3 linked regions of the Homo sapiens genome follow. The protein of the gene in region 2 interacts with the protein of the main gene of each other region in a biochemical or structural test. Each region holds a gene or a part of one and is shown on either strand. Other genes may lie near its edges.

Region 1 (7,025 bases), on a different chromosome or scaffold from region 2:
CTCCCCAGTGTCTGCCCAGCCCACTGCCTGCACTCAGTCCCTGTCCCCATGGCCCCCAGGTGATCTGGAGTACCAGATGTCCACAACAGCCAGGGCCAAACGGGTGCGGGAGGCCATGTGCCCTGGTGTGTCAGGCGAGGACAGCTCGCTTCTGCTGGCCACCCAGGTGGAGGGGCAGGCCACCAACCTGCAGCGACTGGCCGAGCCGTCCCAGCTGCTCAAGTCGGCCATTGTGCATCTCATCAACTACCAGGACGATGCCGAGCTGGCCACTCGCGCCCTGCCCGAGCTCACCAAACTGCTCAACGACGAGGACCCGGTCTGTGAGGGTCCCTGCTAGGGTGGGGGCTGGGCAGGGAGGGGAGAGAGCAGATGTCCTCAGGGGAGGGACATTGTAGGGGTGGAGGGAGGTTATGACCCAGACTCTCCCGTGTGTGATGAGTCTGACTGGGGCCCTCCTCAGCTCTGTGGAAGGGTATCCCGGCCTCTCCTTAGTGCTCACGTCCCCGCCCCTGCCTTTGCCCTCCAGGTGGTGGTGACCAAGGCGGCCATGATTGTGAACCAGCTGTCGAAGAAGGAGGCGTCGCGGCGGGCCCTGATGGGCTCGCCCCAGCTGGTGGCCGCTGTCGTGCGTACCATGCAGAATACCAGCGACCTGGACACAGCCCGCTGCACCACCAGCATCCTGCACAACCTCTCCCACCACCGGGAGGGGCTGCTCGCCATCTTCAAGTCGGGTGGCATCCCTGCTCTGGTCCGCATGCTCAGGTACCCAACCCTGCTCACTGCATGAGCCCAGGACCCCCTCTCACTTGGGCCTCTCCCCTCCCTTCCCTGAGCTTCCATAAATATCCAGTGAGCACCTACTATGTGCCAGGCAGAAGCACACCCCATCCGGGTGCTCGGTGGCTCACAGCCCAGCAGGGAACACAGGCATGTAAACAGCAGGTTAATGATCAGGATACGACACAGGCTATGGCAGAAGAGCATTGAGATTGCTCAAAGGTGGAATCGCTTAATGGCAGGGGATTGACAGATGAGTGGAGTTTGGCTAGTGCAGAGGAAGGGAAGAGTGTCCCAGGCAGAGGGAACAGCAAATGCAAAGTCCCTTGCAAACTTTCTGTTTCCTGGCCCCCTACAAAATGTGGATTGGCCTCATTTCTTTTTTTTTTTTTGAGATGAGGCCTTGCTCTGTCACCCAAGCTGGAGTGCAGTGGCGTGATCTCAGCTCACTGCAGCCTCCACCTCCTGGGTTCGAATGATTCTCCTGCCTCAGTCTCCTGAGTAGCTGGGATTACAAGCATCTGCCACCATACCTAGCTATTTTTTTTTGTTTTGAGATGGAGTTTTCCTCCTGTTGCCCAGGCTGGAGTGCAATGGCACAGTCTCGGCTTACTGCAACCTCTGCCTCCCGGGTTCAAGAGATTCTCCTGCCTCAGCCTCCCAAGTAGCAGGGATTACAGGCACCCACGACCATGCCTGGCTAATTTTTGTATTTTTAGTAAAAATGGGGTTTCACCATGTTGGCCAGGCTAGTCTTGAACTCCTGACCTCAGGTGATCTGCCCCCCTTGGCCTCCCAAAGTGCTGGGATTATAGGCGTCTGCCACCATGCCCAGCTCAATTTTGTATTTTTAGTAGAGACGGGGTTTCACCACGTTGGCCAGGCTGGTTTCGAACTCCTAACCTCAGGGTGATCCACCTGCCTCAGCCTCCCCAAGCGCTGAGTTTACAGACGTGAGCCACTGCTCCTGGCCTTATTTCTCATTCCCATACCAGGCTGGAAGCTCCCTGAAGGGGAGACACTGATTTCACTCCCCTCTGAACGCCTTGCAAGGCCTCTCTAATATGTGGCCTTCCACATGGTGGTTACTTAGTAGGGATCAGTGTCTAGGGGACCTACTGTGCGCTCAGCACAGGGCTGGGGACTCAGAAGCAGGAGGAGTCATTGTCCCAGTTGGGAGAAGAGAGGTGCTGTTTGCTTCATGCTTAAGAGCAGGGCAGGCTCAAGGAGTGATGAGATTTTAGCAAAGGGATATTTCCAGAGGGGCGTCAGTAGCGGGGAGGCTTCCTGGGGGAGGTGGGAACCCATGCCAGGCTCACATGTATGCCAGGCCTCTGGGACCTCAGCGTACTAACCCCTGCCCACCCCCCCAGCTCCCCTGTGGAGTCGGTCCTGTTCTATGCCATCACCACGCTGCACAACCTGCTCCTGTACCAGGAGGGCGCCAAGATGGCCGTGCGCCTGGCCGACGGGCTGCAAAAGATGGTGCCCCTGCTCAACAAGAACAACCCCAAGTTCCTGGCCATCACCACCGACTGCCTGCAGCTCCTGGCCTACGGCAACCAGGAGAGCAAGGTGGGCCCTCCCCAACTCTCCCGAGGCCTGAAGCCCACCCTTGCGCCATCTTCTATCCTGCACAGCCTTGGGCCGCTGCCCCCTTACTCCTTTTAGATGAGATATAGGTGCAGATATACATGCTTCATCATGCGACTGAATTGCCCAGAATTATTATTTTGAGGATAAGGGAAAAAAAAAATCACTCATCCTCATATAGCCACTATTGTCATTTCGATGTGCTTCCTTAAGAGCTGTTCTGTGGGCAGATTACAGATGTGTACACATCCTTGTCATCATAACAATCTGCAATATTGCATCTGTTTTCTGCCTGATTTTTTTTTTTTTTTTTTGAGACAGGGTCTCACTCTGTCACACAGGCTAGAGTGCAGTGGTGTAATCAGGGCTCACTGCAGCCTTGACTTCCTGGGCTCAGATGATCCTCCTACCTCAGCCTCCAGAGTAGCTGGGACTTCAGGCGTGTGCTACCACGCCCGACTAATTTTTTTTTTCCTTTTCTTTTCTTTCTTTTTTTTTTTTTGTTTGAGATGGAGTCTCACTTTGTCGCCCAGGCAGGAGTGCAATGGCACGATCTCGGCTCACTGCAACCTTCGCCTCCCGGGTTCAAGCGATTCTCCTGCTTCAGCCTCCCAAGTAGCTAGGATTACAGGTGCCCGCCACCACACCCAGCTAATTTTTGTATTTTTAGTAGAGACAAGGTTTCACCACATTGGCCAGGCTGGTCTCGAACTCTTGACCTTAGGTTGTCCATCTGCCTCGGCCTCATAAAATGCTGGGATTACAGGCATGAGACACCGTGCCCCACCCCCAACTAATTTTTTATAGAGATGGGATTTCTCCATGTTGCCCAGGCTGGTCTCAAACTCCTGGGCTCAAGTGATCTGCCTGCCTTGGCCTCCCAAAGTATCAGGATTACAGGTGTGAGCCACTGTGCCTGGCCTGTATGATGTTTAAAAAAAATTTTTTTTTGCTATATTGTCCTCAAAACCACCCTCTAATAATGACAGATTGCCTTTCCTTTCCCCTTTCCCCCTCCCCTTTCCTTTTTCCTTTTCCTTTTCCTTTTCCTTTCCCTCTCTTCCTCTCTTTCTTCCTTCCTTCCCATTCTTTCCTTTTCTTTCTTTTTTGAGACAGGGTCTCACTGTGTTACCCAGGCTAGAGTGCAGTGGCATGATCCTAGCTCACTGCATCCTCAAACTCCTGAGCTCAAGCATTCCTCCCATCTTAGTCTTCCTGATAGCTAGGACTATGAGAACATACTACTGAGCTAATTAGCACCCGGGCTAAGTTTTAAATTTTTTGTGGGGATGGTGTCTTGCTCTGTTGCCCAGGCTACCCTCAAGGAATCCTCCTGCTTCAGCCTCCGAAATGCTGGGATTAAAGTCATGGGCCACCATACCCAGCCTACAGATAGCATTTCATTAAGTGGAGACCTCAGGCTTTATTCTGAGGGAGGGTATTTAGATTGCTCCTATTCCACCTTTATAAACAATGCTGTAATGAATGTCTAGCCTTTGTCAAAGAGCGGAAAAAATTCTCATCAATTTTTAACACTTCTAGGCTTTTCCCCAAATGGCCAGATTGATTTCCAGAAGGACTGGACTAATTTCCAGTGCCATAACTGGTAATGGGTGTGCATATAGTTTTGTCATGTCCTTGTCAGCACTGGGTATTATCCTTTTTTCAAAATTTTGGCTTACATAACAGTCATGAAACTATTGGGGTGGGCTGGGTGTGGTGGTTCACGCCTGTAATCCCAGCACTTTGGGAGGCAGAGGCGGGTGAATTGCCTGAGGTCAGGAGTTTGAAACCAGCCTGGCCAACATAGTGAAACCCTGTCTCTACCAAAAACTACAGAAATTAGCCGGGCGTGATGGCACACGCCTGTAATCCCAGCTACTTGGGAGGCTGAGGCATGAGAATTGCTTGAACCCGGGAGGCGGAGGTTGTAGTGACCTGAGATCGTGCCACTGCACTCCAGCCTGGGTGACAGAGCGAGACTCTATCTCAAAAAAAAAAACAAAAAAACTTATTGGGGTGCTTGGCTGGGTGTGGTGGCTCACATCTGTAATCCCAGCACTTTGGGAGGCTGAGGTGTGAGGATCACTTGAGGCCAGGAGTTCTAGACCAGCCTGGGCAGCATAGTGAGACCCCCATCTTTATAAAAAGAAAAAAATACATTAAAAGAAAAAAACGAACTATTCGTGCTTTAGCTGAAGCTCAGTAATGACAGTTCTGTCTCCTGTCCCGCGCTTCCTTGTTCCTGTCATATTCCCCGTCCATCTCACACTCATTCCCTCTTTACCCATAGCTGATCATCCTGGCCAATGGTGGGCCCCAGGCCCTCGTGCAGATCATGCGTAACTACAGTTATGAAAAGCTGCTCTGGACCACCAGTCGTGTGCTCAAGGTGCTATCCGTGTGTCCCAGCAATAAGCCTGCCATTGTGGAGGCTGGTGAGTATGATGGCCTTGAGGGCGGCTGGGGTGGGAGCTCTGCCCAGCTGCCAGGCTCAGTCAGCCATGCTCCCCGTGGCTGATGGCACCCCTATCCCTGCCCCAGGTGGGATGCAGGCCCTGGGCAAGCACCTGACCAGCAACAGCCCCCGCCTGGTGCAGAACTGCCTGTGGACCCTGCGCAACCTCTCAGATGTGGCCACCAAGCAGGTGAGGGAGGTATCTGGGCCTGGGGTTGACCTCTTCAGCTGCCCCATCCAGCCTCCTGTCTGGGCATCTGACCTGAGGTACTGTGGGAGGACTGGGGGCTCTAAATCTCTCTTCCTTGTGACTGAGGCTGGAAATGCCTTGAAAACCCTCATCTCTTTTTTTTTTTTTTTTTTTTTTTCTGACGGAGTCTCACTCTGTCACCTAGGCTGGAGTGCAGTGGTGCAATCTCGGCTCACTGCAAGCTCCGCCTCCTGGGCTCAAGTGATTCTCCTGCCTCAGCCTCCCGAGTAGTTGGGACTACAGGCACCTGCCATCATGTCTGGCTAATTTTTGTATTTTTATTAGAGACAGGGTTTCACCATGTTGGGCAGGCTGGTCTTGAACTCCTGACCTCAGGTGATCCACCCGCCTTGGCCTCCCAAAGTGCTGGGATTACAGGCGTGAGCCACCACATCCAGCAAAAGAACAGTTTTGACCTGGGCCCTGGGCTGGAGCAATAGTGTACCAAGAGACAGGCCCCCATGACTAAAAATACAATTTAAGGAAAAATGCAGCTCCAGGGCAAGTGCCCTGTGCCTCCTTCCAACAACCATTCCCCAGGCCTCCCCTAGCAATATGCTGTTTATCAAGTGCTCACCCTGTGCTGGCCCTCTGCGTGGCATTTGTGGACAGTAGCTCATTCAACCTGGGGTTAGAGTGTGGGACCCTGTGGGTTAGATGAAGACACTGAGGCTCGGGGAGCTAATGGCCATGGTCACAGGTAGTAAATGGCAGAACTGGGATTTGAACCCAGGACTGTCCGTCCCCAAAGCTGGGGTTTTTCTGTTCCACCACAAGGCCCACGTGTCTCCCTGGGAGAAGTGAGATAGACGTCTGAGGTAGTGATTTTACTGGAAATGGATTTGGCTCAGGGCCCCAGGGTGGTGGGGCAGCAGTGAAGGCCCAGAAAGGTGACAAGCGAGTAGACATGGCTCAGCTGGGCCACTGAATCATGCGGCCCCCTCAACAATTGCCTCCTGGTCTCGAGGCCTCCCTTGGCCACCGTACTTTGGCCTGAGGAGGGTTCTGCCTGGGTCTGAGGGCCCCAGGGAAAGGCTGATGAGTTGGAGGGAAGAGATGTGGGGCTTAGAGCCAAGCCTGGGTTCAGATCCAGCCACTAGCTGTGTGTCTGTGGGCAAGTTCCCCAACCTCTCTGAGCCTCATTGCCTCACTTGCACCACAGGATAGTAACGCCCTCTCACAGGGTGTGGCGGGTCATAGGGATGAAAGTTCCCGGGCACACACAGGCAGGGCTGACCCCTTTAGGTCATCCCACTCCCCTTGGACATATTCGAGAAGGCTCCCTGGAGTTGGCTGCTCCCTGACTCCCCCGTCCCTTCCTTGCCCTCCAGGAGGGCCTGGAGAGTGTGCTGAAGATTCTGGTGAATCAGCTGAGTGTGGATGACGTCAACGTCCTCACCTGTGCCACGGGCACACTCTCCAACCTGACATGCAACAACAGCAAGAACAAGACGCTGGTGACACAGAACAGCGGTGTGGAGGCTCTCATCCATGCCATCCTGCGTGCTGGTGACAAGGACGACATCACGGAGCCTGCCGTCTGCGCTCTGCGCCACCTCACTAGCCGCCACCCTGAGGCCGAGATGGCCCAGAACTCTGTGCGTCTCAACTATGGCATCCCAGCCATCGTGAAGCTGCTCAACCAGCCCAACCAGTGGCCACTGGTCAAGGTACTGCTGTTAGGCGAGGGGAAGGAGCTCCCTGCAGCAGGCTTAGGTGCTGTATTGGTATAGGCAAAGCCGCTGTAGCAAAGAAGCCCTAAATACAGTGGCTCGAATAAGACAGAAGTTTATTTCTCTCTCGTGTAATAGTTTAGACCTCAACAATGGCTCTGCTCTAAAATTCCAGAATTGGGATTTCTATCTTGTAGCTCTACCAGCCCCTAGGGCAGAGCTCAGAGTTCAAAATGCACATGAGTACCCTGGGTGGTTTCATTAAATT
Region 2 (6,309 bases):
GTAGGACTTGTCTGCTCACCAGTGGAGCAGCTGCACAGCTCAGTGGGTGATGCAGCTGTGTGTCCAGGGGCCAGATGGACACACTGTTTTTTGTGTCCATTATCCACATTGCAATAATTACAGGAGATCTCACTAACCAATTTCCATACATTCAGTCTCTACTGCCACAGGGCCATCCCTCTCCTCCAAGGTAGTGGGAGAGGGGCAGTCCCAATGCCCCGATAGTGCAACCCACAGAATCTTAAAGGGAAAGAGAGGCAAAGGGTATGCTCCCCGGCCTAGGGTGCTCTTCACATGCACTGGTGGCTCTGGCCTGGCTGGCTCTTGGTGGCCTGGTTTTCAGGGTTTATAACCACTCCTTTCTGAAAGTGGGTAGCCATGCCAGGAGCCTACACTGGCACAAATACTTAGGGTACCCTCCCCGTCTCCTCAGGAGCAGGGAATCTCCAGAACCCATCCTAGCTACTGATTTGGCCCAGACTCTTTGGTTCCAGAAACAGCTGAGACAGAGTCCTGGTTTGTAAGAAATCTGATTATTCAAATTTATTACCATCAAGAATTATGCAATGATGCTGTAGTTTTTCTTAACAAATAGAAAACAGACTGTGTACAACAGTGAACTCTACAGCACTAGCATCCACAAGGTAAAAATGAATGTTTCATCATCCAACATTACCAACCCTGGAATGTTGATCTTGACTTAGCCTAGCTAGGTTTGGGGACGTCGGCACCACGTCCCTCAGCTAAAACAGCTATGCACCCTTCCCCGCCCCCACTTACCTATCTAGATAGCGCTGCCCAGAGGAAGAGGCGCTCTCCCTGCCCCTCAGCAAGCTGGGATAATAAGGACTGATTAGAGTACCATTGATAGAAGTCCAGTAGTCTTGCCACATTGGTTTATGAGGGCATCTTGGAGTGGAAAAGAGCGATTATCGGGGGCTTTGAAAACAGCTGCAAACCAGGGAGGAAAATCATCTGGCCCCTGCTCTGAGGACAGACATGTGCTACCAGGCCCACTGGCCTGGACCTGAAAGGCCAGCCACGCCCCCGCTTGGCCCTGAGGTGCATGGGGTGTGGCACACACCCTAACCTGTGCTATTCACCTTGGCCACACAGCCAGACCCCACAGCCTACAAACACCACACCATACTGCAATGCTGGGGACCAAAGCCAGGCTCTGTGGGCCCAGGTCAGCCAGCAGCTCCCTCGGGAACCCCAGGCACACGGAGTTGCTTCCCCTCTTGAGGGTTTGAAGCAGAAGCCAAGGGCTGACTCTTTTTTTTTTTCTTGGGTTTTTTGTTTTTTTTGTTTTTTATTTTTGTGGTTTTTTGTTTTTGTTTTAACCTTTGCAAACACGATGGTGATGAGGAATGCCTTGCCAGGCTCTCCCAGACACATCTGTGGTTCTGGGCTGTGAATGTTAAACACACACTGGGATAGACGACCAGGGATGAGTGTTCCCTATCTTCTCCCCGCCCACCACTGTCAATGTGGCCTAAAAAAAGGCTTTAAAGGGAAAACAAAACTTAAAAAAACATTGAGTTTCCCTGCATTTAGCTGAAACAGGATCTCGTCTGAAGGGCTGGAGGAGCAGCCGGATCAGCACTGCCTCCCGGCCCACGGCCGAGCCTCCGCTCAGGCTGGCAGCCCCAGCTCTGCACGAGGAAGGCAATGTTCTGTCCTTCAGCAGAAGTCATACAAAATAAGGATCCAAAGTGAACTCAAGAAAAAAAAAAACAAAACAAAATAAACCCCAACCCCTACAGTGGCCCATTCTGCAGATACGGATTCGCGAAAGGAAAAATCAGAGGGAAGAGGCTAAAATCCCTCAGTCTACCCCACTTAATGTATTAAAAAGGAGGCTTTGCCCCAACCCCACCCCATGAGAAGAAGCATGAGAAATGCGGGAGCGCAACAGAGAGCTTGAAGCGGGCTCCAGGTGGGTCTGGTGGACAGAAGGGCCACAGTGCCTGCCTGCTGGGCCATCCACTTGCCCAGGGATGTTCTAGGCTCTCTGATTGGTGTGGCAACGTTCCTGAAACGCTGTGATCCCCGTGGGCTGTGCTCTGCCAGTGACAGCATCTGCGTAGGAGGGCTGGACGATGGTCGGTATGGCTCAGAGGAGCTGGGTCCCCTCCGGAGCCCCACGGCGGGGGTGGCGGAGGAGAGGGGAGCGGTAGTTACGTTGCATAGTGGTCAAAGCTGCCGAGGTACTCCAGGGCCGCACGGTAGCACAGCTGATACTGGTCCTGCCAGGATAGGGGGCTGGTCAGTGTGGGTCGCGCCAGTGGACACCCCCACTACACAGCTGACACTCACACTGCAGCCATGGAGTTAGCCTCTGCTGGCCAAGAGCAGGTGCTGGACCCTGGCAGCTACATCAGGCAGTGTGCGGGGGAGCCTGAAAGAGCCTCTGAAGGCTCATCTCTCTCCTGTCATTCTCTCAGGCCCCCACATCTACCTGCCTTCCATCTGCCATCCCAATCATGTTTCTCTGCTCCTGACTGGGCACCCCATAAGGATTGCTCTGTGCAACCTTGCCCAGAGCCAGGCACACCACTGGGGCTCAGCAGAGAGCTGCCGAATGAAAGAACACATCTTACTCATCAATCCCCTGAGCCCCCAGGCAGCACAGGCAATGTTGCAGCATTTTTGTTTTGTTTTGTTTTGTTTTCAGCAACAGGGTCTTGCTCTGCCACCCAGGCTGGAGTGCCGTGGTATAATCATAGCTCACTGCAGCCTCGAACTTCTGACCTCAAGTGATTCTCCCACATCAACCTCCCAAGTAGGTAGGACCATAAGCACACACCACCATGCCTATCGCAGGCCACGTGAAAGGTTGGCAGCATGAATGAATGCACATGCCTGTGGGCATCAAACTGTTGCTAAAGCCTAGGGTTCCCAGCAGCGCTGCTGCCAAGGCCCTGGCCCTGCAGCCTGGTCTGCGTTACCTCTGTCTGCACCATGGCAGGACGCTGTGTACGCAGGGTCTTCACGGTCTGAAACATGTCGACCACGCCCTCGTAGCGCATGCGCTCCAGGACGATGCTCAGAGTGATGAACACCCCGGTGCGGCCCACGCCAGCACTGCTCAGAAACACAGTTGGGTCAGGAGTCCTGCTTGCCTCATGCAGTGGGTCTGCCAGGCCTTCAGGCCCACCCACCCCAGCCCTCCAGGGGGCCAGTCCCACCTGCAGTGCACCGTGATAGGCCCATCCTGTCCAAACTGCTCCTTGGTCTTATGCACCTGCCCGATGAAGTCAATGAATCCCTCGCCTGTCTTGGGCACGCCCTGCTCTGGCCAGTCTGTGAACTGGAACTGCCGGATTGTCCTTGACTGCCCATCCTGGGAAAGGTGGGTGGGGTACATGATTAGAATTCGTGCCTTAGGCAGCCACCCCTCTGGACTAGACCAGGGTAGTACCATGATACAGGCATGCATCTGTGTCACTGCACCCGAGGCCACAGGGGGAGATGTGCTCACACCCTAATACCCACCCACCGCCTCAGATTTCTGAAGCTTGAGCTAAGGTACCATGCAGGCAGCCATCCACCCAGCGTGTGGACAGGCAGCGTTATGGACACACTCAATGCACTCACTCACCCGGGCATCCGTGACCTTGAACTCACGCAGGATATACTGGGGCATGTTGTACTCAGCCATCGGGTCAACAACAAAGTACTGGTAGCGAGCAGAGCGCTCTGCTGGCCAGTACTGGTGGCATTTCTCCTGTGGACAGAGGGTCGGGCCCCCATAATCAGGTGAGAAGGAATAGGGGAGGGGTGCCAGGCTTCACAGGATTCTGGGACAGATGCCTCAGGTAGTAATAACGGGCGCCTGAGGCCATGCTGACAAGCAGCTGGGGTGTCAAAGGAGACAGTAACATAGGCGGCAGCTCCCCCAAGGGTGGCTGGTGTTCTCCCAGGTATGACAGGGGCCCTGGGGGAAAGGGTGGGCTCACCCTGCCCATCTCCCGAAGCTTGGTCAGCATGACGATGATGGTGGAATTGTGCTCCCATAGCATGCGCCAGAAGTCCTCGGTGCTCTCTGCCAGAGGCCCCTGTGTAGCTATGTAGGCCTTCTGCTGTCTGGGGTGGACATAAGACTGGACATGCTGGAGGTGCTGCTGCCCCTAGAGTCTCCCCTTAGGCTGCCTAGCCCCTTGGGGCCCTGCTCAGATCACCCCTCCTCCAGGAAGTCCTCACTGCTCTACCCAGCCCTCTCTGGTCTTCTAGGCTGGCCCTACTCTGCTGCCCACCCCCACCAGCCAGGCACAGGCCTAGGCCCCTGTAGGGCATGGTGGGGCAGTGACATGCATGCTGACCTATAACCATCCAGGAAGCTGGCATTGATGTAGTCAGAGCCCTCCACACCACGGATGGGCTGCAGACACACACGGGTCAATTCGTAGGGCATGATGTTCACCAGCCGGTTCTTGAACTTGTTGCAGGGCAGGTTGGCGCTGATGAAGCGGGACGTGTGGGCCTTGGAGCTGGCCAGCAACTATTGAGAGGCAGGGATTGGTCAGGCCAGGCTTCCTGTGGGGGTGGGGGTCATCTGCATGACCCAGTCTAGGCCCTGGAGCCAAGCAGGCCCACCCGAGCCCCACCTTGAACTCGAGCTCCATGGCGGTCACACTCTCCCCTGGAGGCACTTGGCCCAGCTTCTGGATGTGGGCATACAGGTTGCGGGCAGGCACCTCTGTGTGGCCGCACGTGGCAGCCTCCAGCAGCGCCTCATGGATGAACACGTACTGGTCCTCCGTCTGCACCATGTAGTTCCTCTGTGATCGCATGCAGGTCACGTGGCCATAGATGTCCACCGTCTTCTCGTGCTTCATCCGCTCCAACATGGCATCAATCACGATGAAGCAGCCGGTGCGGCCCACGCCCGCGCTGCAGGACACGGGCTCAGCTTGAGGCACAGGCGCCCCCACCTCCCACCCCACCCACCCCTCTGGGTGGCACTGTACCCTCTCACCTGCAGTGCACCACCATGGGCCCTGCGTCTAGGGGGTTGCAGGCCTTGACCCGTCGTAGGAAGGCCAGGATGGGAGTTGGGTACTCAGGAACTCCATGGTCTGGCCAGGCCATGAACTGAAACTGACGCAGCTCGCGCTTCTCACTGGAGCCACTCTGGGGGACAAAGTGGGGACATACTGGCGACTAGGAGCCTACCTGCCATAGACTCAGGACTGAATGACCTGATGCTGAGGCCATACCCGCCACTTCCCCATGGGACTCAGAAGCCACACAGAGTAGCCTGAAGCTCCTAGCACTGTTCCCATAACATGGATCATCACATCACTCACACACCTGAGCCTCCGACCCTCCAACACCCAGGCTCCAGCTTCCCCCCGACCCAGCACACCACACCCAGGCCACTGTCCTTACAGTGTCTGGGTAAGAGATATGCACTGGGGAAAGGCTATACCTTGTGGAGTGCGAAGGTGCGCACAGTGTATGTGGCCAGCTCCACTGTGTCCAACAGGGTCACCTGAATAAGGCCACAGGTCTCGGTGCCACGGGCTGGCCAGTACTGATCACATTTTACCTGCAGGAGGATGAGCAGGGCAGGCTGAAGGAAGCCCACAGGCTCAGACGGGCAGAAGCAGGGTGGAGGCTGGTCAACTCCCTGGCTGTAGCCTTTCTGGCTACAAAGCCCCCCAGCCCTGAGCTCTCAGATCCATTGCCCCCTGTCCTCCACAAGCCACATCAGGTCCTCAAGCTATGTCACCGCCCTGCCCTAGCTAGTGGAATAAGGGTCATAATTGAAAATTATTTATTCAACGCCAGATCGCACCAGGCACATTTTCTGCCAAATTTACCCATAACGTTTATGTGCCATTTTCAAGCTCTGTAAATTTTACGTTCCAGTCAATGCTTTGCAGTCCAAAAACAGATAACAGCAGCTCTTTCCACTAATTAACTTAGGAGATGTGTTAATGCCCCAGGAACACTCCAGCATCTGGGGAACACATGAATACCCCGGGAACACGCCAGCAACTGGGGAACACATTAACATTCTCCGAAAATGACAGCATTTGGTGAAACATATTAACATCTTAAGGAACCCACTAGCATGTGGGGAACATGCTGTATCCCAGAAACACCCAGTATTTGGGGAGCATAATACCCCCAGTAACAATAGCATCTGGGGATCACTTGAGCGACTTCCTCCACAGAAGAAAGCGGCACAGAAGAAGGTGCCCTGTATCACCTTGTGGCTGGGCATTTCCCACCCGCCTCCTGGCAGGGCCCTGCAGCCTCACCCGGGACTTCTCCTCCAGCCGTGTCATCATGACCACA
Region 3 (7,025 bases), on a different chromosome or scaffold from region 2:
GAGACCAGCCTGGGCAACATGGCGAAACCCCATCTCTACAAAAAATTCAAAAATTGAGACAGAGCGAGACTCCGGCTCAAAAATAAAATAAAATAAAATAATAAACAAAATGTGGAATGAGCCAGGCATAGAAGGCCAGCTGTTGTATGATTTTTTTTTTTCATGAAGCATTCAGAGTAGGCAAATTTAGAGACAGGAAGTAGATTAGTGTTTGCCAGGGGCTGGGGTCGGGAGAAGGGGGAGTCACTAGTGCTCAATGAGTACAGAATTTTGGTGTGTTGTGATGAAAAAGTTCTGGAAATAGGCTGTGCGGGGTGGCTCAGGCCTGTAATCCCAACACTTTGGGAGGCTGAGGTGGATGGATCACAAGGTCAGGAGTTCAAGACCAGCCTGACCAATATGGTAAAACCCTGTGTCTACTAAAAATACAAAAATTAGCCAGGCGTGGTGGCGTGCACGTGTAATCCCAGCTACTCAGGAGGTTGGGGCAGGAGAATCGCTTGAACCTGGGAGGCGGAGGTTGCAGTGAGCCAAGATCATGCCACTGCACTCCAGCCTGGGCGACAGAGAGAGACTCCATCTCAAAAAAAAAAAAAAAAAAAGAAAAAGAAAAAGTTCTGGAAATAACAATGATGGTTATGCAACATTGTGAATGTAATTAGTGCATTAAACTGCACACCGCCTCTTGAACCCGGGAGGCGGAGGTTGCAGCGAGCCAAGGTAGCACCACTGCAATCCAGCCTGGATAATAGAGACTCTGTCTCAACAAAATAAAAATAACAATAAACTGCACACGTAAAAATGGTTAAAATTGGCCAGGTGCGGTGGCTCACGCCTGTAATCCCAGCACTTTGGGAGGCCAAGGTGGGTGGATCGCGAGGTCAGGAGTTCAAGACCAGCCTGGCCAACATGGTGAAACCCCATCTCTACTGAAAATACAAAAATTAGCTGGGCATGGTGGCGCATGCCTGTAATCCCAGCTACTCAGGAGGCTGGGGCAGGAGAATTGCTTGAACCGGGACCTGGGAGGCGGAGGTAGCAGTGAGCGAGATCGCACCACTACACTCCAGCCTGGGCTCTGTCTCAAACAAAACAAAACAAAACAAAACAAAAATGGTTAAAATTAGGAATTATGTGCTATATATATTTTGCGCTATATATATTTTGCCACAATTTTTAAAAATTCACTTCCTTTTCTCTGATGCAAGATCTGGTCCCTCTCTACTCTCTGAGCACACCCCAGCCCCATCACGCAGCTCCAGCCCCACTGGGCTTTGTCTGTTCCTCAAGCAGAACAAGTTCAGTCCTGCCTCTGAGCCTTCACACTGGTGGTTCCCTTTGCTAGGAATGCTGTTCCCTGTCTGAACCCTTACTATCTTTTTTTTTTTTTTTTTGAGATAGAATCTCACTCCATCACCCGGGCTGGAGTTCAGTGATGCAACCCAGCTCACTGCAACCTCTGCCTCCCAGGCTCAAGGGATTCTCCTGCTTCAGCATCCCGAGTATCTTGGGACTACAGGCGCGCACCATCATGCCCGGCTAATTTTTGTATTTTTATGAGAGACAGGGTTTCACCTTGTTGTCCAAGGTGGTCCCAAACTCCTGACCTCAAGTGATCTGACCCCCTTGGCCTCTCAAAGTGCTGGGATTACAGGCATGAGCCACTGAGCCCGGCCTTGAATCCTTACTATCTTTGATTCTTTAACTCTCACATTGCCTCCTCAGGGAAGTCCTCCTGGACTTCGGGCTGAGATCACCATTTGTCCCACCATGTATCTTTTTTCTTTTTCTTTTCCTTTTTTTTTTTTTTTTTGAGGCAGAGTCTCGGTCTTGTCACCCAGGCTGGAGTACAATAGCGCAATCTCGGCTCACTGCAACCTCTGCCTCCCGGGTTCAAACAATTCTCCTGCTGGGATTACAGGCTCCCACTACCATGCCTGGCTAATTTTTTGTATTTTTAGTGGTGATGGGGTTTCACCATATTGACCAGGCTGGTCTTGAACTCCTGACCTCAGGTGATCCGCCCACCTCGGCCTCCCAGAGTGCTGGGATTACAGGCATGAGCCACCAGGCCTGGCCTTGTCCCACCACTTATCTAACACTGATTCATGTTGAAAATGAACTGGGTGCGGCCGGGCACCCAGGGAGGCAGGAGGACCAGGGAGGAGAATGCTGCAGCCTCCAAACCAGAGGAATGGTGTATTGGATTACAGTGGTGGCCCCCGTCAGGATGGGCAGGACAGTGGCCATTGTAGAGATGGGAACACTGAATCCCTGTGAGTTTGAGGGGTCTGGCCAGGGGAGTCCCACAGCAGGAATTGCCAGAACCTGGGCTGGAACAGAGGTCCCCTGAACAACTCCCTGCCCCCTATTCCTGCAGCAATTTGAGAACTGGCGAGAGAACCAGCCGGACAATTTCTTCGCGGGTGGCGAGGACTGTGTGGTGATGGTGGCGCATGAAAGCGGGCGCTGGAACGATGTCCCCTGCAACTACAACCTACCCTATGTCTGCAAGAAGGGCACAGGTATGCTGTGCCCCCTGCTTCTTTTCCTCTCTGTCACTTTTGCTCACTGGTTCTCTGTTGCCCAGGCTGGAGTGCAGTGGCATAATCATGGCTCATCACAGCCTCCACCGCCTGGGTTCAAGCCATCCTCCTGCCTCAGCTTCCCGAGTAGGTGGGACTATAGGCATGCACCAACATGCCCAGCTAATTTTTGTATTTTTTGTAGAGATGGGGTCTTGCCATGTTGCCCAGGCTGGTCCCGAACTCCTGGGCTCAAGCGATCTGCCTGTCTCAGCCTCTCGAAGTGCTGGGATTATATGCATAAGCCATTGTGCCCAGCCTTGATTCATTTTTTTTTTTCATGAAGCATTCAGAGTACACAAATTTAGAGACAAGAAGTAGATTAGTATTTGCCAGGGGCTAGGGTTTGGGAGAAGGGGGAGTCACTAGTGCTTAATGGGTATAGAATTTTGGTGTGTTGTGATGAAAAAGTTCTGGAAATAGGCCGCTCGGGGTGGCTCATGCCTGTAATCCCAACACTTTGGGAGGCCAAGGTGGGTGGGATTATATTTTATTTTTTTAATTTATTCTTATTTTGTTTTTACTTATTTATGTTTTTGGAGACAGTTTCGCTCTTGTTGTCCAGGCTGGAGTGCAAAGGCATGCTCTTGGCTCACTTCAACCTCTGCCTCCCATGTTCAAGTGATTCTCCTGCCTCAGCCTCCTGAGTAGCTGGGATTACAGGCGTATGCCACCACGCCCAGCTGGTTTTTATATTATTAGTAGAGACGGGGTTTCACCATGTTGGCCAGGCTGGTCTCGAACTCCTGACCTCAGGTGATCCACCCACCTCGGCCTCCCAAAGGGCAGGGATTACAAGCATGAGCCACTGCACCTCGCCTTCATCTTTTTAAGTTGGTAAATGTCAGTGCAGCCAGTTCTCACTTTCCACCAGCGTATGAGAGTGCTTGTTTCCTCCCACCCTTGCTAACTCTGCACATTCTTAAACTTTTGTTCTTTGTTCATCTAAGTGGGGAAAAATAGTATCTCATTGTTATCTTAGTTTGCATGCCTTTAAGGATGAGAATAACCAGTTGTTTTTTGTTTGTTTGTTTGAGATGGAGTCTCACTCTGTCATCCAAGCTGGAGTGCAGTATTGCAGTCTCGGCTCACTGCAACCTCCGCCTCTGAGGTTCAAGCGATTCTCCTGCCTCAGCCTCCCGAGTAGCTGGGATTACAGGCACACACCACACCTGGCTAATTTTTTTTTTGTTTTTGTATTTTTAGTGGAGACGGGGTTTCACCATGTTGACCAGGCTGGTCTCAAACTTCTGACCTTAAGTAGTCTGCCTGCCTCAGCCTCCCAAAGTTCTGGGGTTACAGGTGTGAGCCACCGTGTCTGGCCTAACCAACTGTTTATATGTTGACAGCCTGTTGGCATATATTTCTTTCCCTGTGAACTGTCAATTCATCTCTTTTGCCCAGTTTTCTATTGACTTGTTGATCTTACTGATTTTTAAGAGATCTTTATATATGAAAGAAATCATTTGTATACATTTGTACATCCACCTTTATTTTATACTTTGGTTTATTTTTGTTTCCATTTCTTTGTCAATTTTCACATCCTCCCCCCCATTTATTCATGTATTTATTTATTTATTTTTGAAACAGGGTCTTGCAATGTTGCCCAGGCTGGAGTACAGTGGCATTATCACGGCTCACTGCAGATCACTTGAACTCCAGGGCTCAAGTGATACTCCTACCTCAGTCTTACCAGTAGCTGGACTACGGGTGCACACCACCATGCCTGGCTTATTTATTTATTTATTTATTTTGAGACGGCGTCTTGCTCTGTCGCCCAGGCTGGAGTGCAGTGGCGCAATCTCGGCTCACTACAAGCTCCGCCTCCCGGGTTCACGCCATTCTCCTGCCTTGGCCTCCTCAGCAGCTGGGACTACAGGCGCACGCTGCCACACCCAGCTAATTTTTTGTATTTTTAGTAGAGACGATGTTTCACCGTGTTAGCCAGGATGGTCTCGATCTCCTGACCTTGTGATCCGCCTGCCTCGGCCTCCCAAAGTGCTGGAATTACAGGTGTGAGCCACCGCACCCGGCCCTTATTTTAAAATTTTTTTGTAGAGACAGGGTCTTGCTGTGTTGCCCAGGCTGGTCTCAAACTCCCGGACTGAAGCAATCCTTCCACCTCAGCCTCCCAAAGTGCTGGCATTACAGGCCTGAGCTGCCGCACCCGGCCTTTATTTGCTCAGATAATTATTATTGCCGTCTGTCTCCTTCATTCCCATTGTGCCCTATGTTTGGTGTAAGAATTAGAAAGTGAGGTGTGTCCGGGAGGTTGCTGTCCCTAAGGAGCTGCTGATTTGGGTAGAAGAGACAGACAGACACAGTCACTTCCAGCCCTGTGAGATAAGAACTGGGCAGAGGCAGGGACCTGTTGACGAGCTGAGGGGGGTGTCATTCCCAATAAAACTCAGCTTGAGCCCATGAGTTCAAAACTAGCCCGGGCAACATAGTGGGACCCTGTCTTTACAAAAAATCAAAAAATTAGCTAGGCTCGGTGGTGCGCACCTGTAGTCTCAGCTACTTGAGAGGCTGAGGTGGGAAGATCCCTTGAGCCTGGGAGGTTGAGGCTGCAGTGAGTTGTGATTGTGCCACTGCACTCCAGCCTGAGCGACAAAGGAAGACGCTCTTTTAAAAACAACAATAAGAGCCAGGCACGGTGGCTCATGCCTTTAATCCCAGCACTTTGGGAGGACAAGGTGGGCAGCTCATCTGAGGTCAGGAGTTCAAGACCCGCCTGGCCAATATGACGAAACCCGGTCTCTACTATAAATACAAAAATTAGCCAGCCATGGTGGTGCATGTCTGTAATCCCAGCTCCTCGGGAGGTTGAGGCAGGAGAATCACTTGAGTCTGGGAGGCAGGGGTTGCAGTGAGCCGAGATCACGCCACTGCACTCCAGTCTGGGAGACAGAGTGAGACCCTGTCTCAAAAAAGGAACAAAAAAATACAAAAATTAGCCAGGTGTAGATTACAGGCAGGTGCCTGTAATCCCAGCTACTTGGGAGGCTGAGGCAGGAGAATCGCTTGAACCAGAGAGGCGGAGGTTGCAGTGAGGCAAGAGCGCGCCACTGCACTCCAGTCTGGGTGACAGAGCGAAACTCTGTCTCAAACAACAACAACAACAACAACTAGTTTAGCCCCAGATGTGAGCACCTCTCTCACTAGAGATTCCTCTGTCCCAGTGCTCTGTGGTCCCCCTCCGGCAGTGGAGAATGCCTCACTCATCGGTGCCCGCAAGGCCAAGTACAATGTCCATGCCACTGTAAGGTACCAGTGCAATGAAGGATTTGCCCAGCACCATGTGGCCACCATTCGATGCCGGAGCAATGGCAAGTGGGACAGGCCCCAAATTGTCTGCACCAAACGTAAGTAGCTTCTCCCAGAGATCTCAACATAGGTTTTTGGTATTTCTAGTTTCCAAGTAAGACATCCTATTTCTCCACACATTGATCTGGCTTAATGTCTGCCTGATAATACAGCCTTGCAGATAAGTGAGAACTTACCAGCCTGTCTGATGTTTCCTTCATTTGTGTGTGTGTGTGTGTGTGTGTGTGTGTGTGTGTATGTGTATGAGAGAGAGATGGAGTTGTGCTCTGTTGCCCAGGCTGGAGTGCAGTGGCACAATCTCGGCTCACTGCAACCTCCCGGGTTCAAGCGATCCTTGTGTCTCAGCCTCCTGAGTAGCTGGGATCACAGGTGTCCACTGCCATGCCCGGCTAATTTTTGTATTTTTAGTAGAGACAGGGTTTCACTATGTTGGCCAGGCTGATCTCGAACTCCTGAGTTCATGTGATCAGCTCACCTCAGCCTCCCAAAGTGCTGGGATTACAGGCGTGAGCCACCACATCCGGCCTGGTTTTGTTTTTTTTGAAACAGAGCCTCACTCTGTTGCCCAGGCTGGAGTGCGAGGCTCAATCACAGCTCACTATAGCCTCATCCTCCCAGTCTCAAGGGATCCTCCAAACTCAGCCTCCCAAATAGCTGGGACTACAAGCATGTGCCGCCACGCCTGGCTAATTTTTTTATTTTTGTAGAGATAGGTTCTCGCTATGTTGCCCAAGCTGGTCTCAAACTCCTGGCTTCAAGAGATCCTCCCACTTTGGCCTCCCAAAGTGCTGGGATGACAGGGATGAGCCCTCGCGTCTGGCCTCTTTCCTCTACTTTCTCTCCCAAGGACACCCGCTGCATCAGGCCACCTGCCTCTCACCACCTTTTGTCCCTTCCCTGTCCTCCCTCACTTCCCTGCAGCCAGACGTTCACATCGGATGCGGCGACACCACCACCACCACCAACACCACCACCAGCATCACCACCACAAATCCCGCAAGGAGCGCAGAAAACACAAGAAACACCCAACGGAGGACTGGGAGAAGGACGAAGGGAATTTCTGCTGAAGAACCAGAAAAAAGAAAGCACAACACCTTTCCCATGCCTCCTCTG

The links. The genes of interacting proteins can lie anywhere in the genome.
Region 1: the proteins of PTPRF (region 2) and JUP form a complex in vitro, tested with the Homo sapiens proteins (one study listed by BioGRID).
Region 3: the proteins of PTPRF (region 2) and NCAN form a complex in vitro, tested with the Homo sapiens proteins (one study listed by BioGRID).

What each region holds. Positions count from the first base shown.
Region 1 is NC_000017.11:41,762,712-41,769,736, reverse strand, and holds part of JUP (junction plakoglobin), read left to right. Parts: intron 1-59; coding exon 60-319; intron 320-529; coding exon 530-768; intron 769-2,156; coding exon 2,157-2,358; intron 2,359-4,669; coding exon 4,670-4,814; intron 4,815-4,920; coding exon 4,921-5,024; intron 5,025-6,415; coding exon 6,416-6,754; intron 6,755-7,025. UniProt on the Homo sapiens protein: Common junctional plaque protein. The membrane-associated plaques are architectural elements in an important strategic position to influence the arrangement and function of both the cytoskeleton and the cells within the tissue.
Region 2 is NC_000001.11:43,617,875-43,624,183, reverse strand, and holds the end of PTPRF (receptor-type tyrosine-protein phosphatase F isoform 1 precursor), read right to left. Parts: coding exon 6,273-6,309; intron 5,555-6,272; coding exon 5,435-5,554; intron 5,137-5,434; coding exon 4,982-5,136; intron 4,897-4,981; coding exon 4,611-4,896; intron 4,505-4,610; coding exon 4,326-4,504; intron 4,090-4,325; coding exon 3,963-4,089; intron 3,731-3,962; coding exon 3,605-3,730; intron 3,347-3,604; coding exon 3,192-3,346; intron 3,088-3,191; coding exon 2,952-3,087; intron 2,250-2,951; coding exon 2,181-2,249; 3' UTR 518-2,180; downstream 1-517. UniProt on the Homo sapiens protein: Possible cell adhesion receptor. It possesses an intrinsic protein tyrosine phosphatase activity (PTPase) and dephosphorylates EPHA2 regulating its activity.
Region 3 is NC_000019.10:19,242,933-19,249,957, forward strand, and holds part of NCAN (neurocan core protein precursor), read left to right. Parts: intron 1-2,380; coding exon 2,381-2,525; intron 2,526-5,767; coding exon 5,768-5,950; intron 5,951-6,833; coding exon 6,834-6,979; 3' UTR 6,980-7,025. UniProt on the Homo sapiens protein: May modulate neuronal adhesion and neurite growth during development by binding to neural cell adhesion molecules (NG-CAM and N-CAM). Chondroitin sulfate proteoglycan; binds to hyaluronic acid.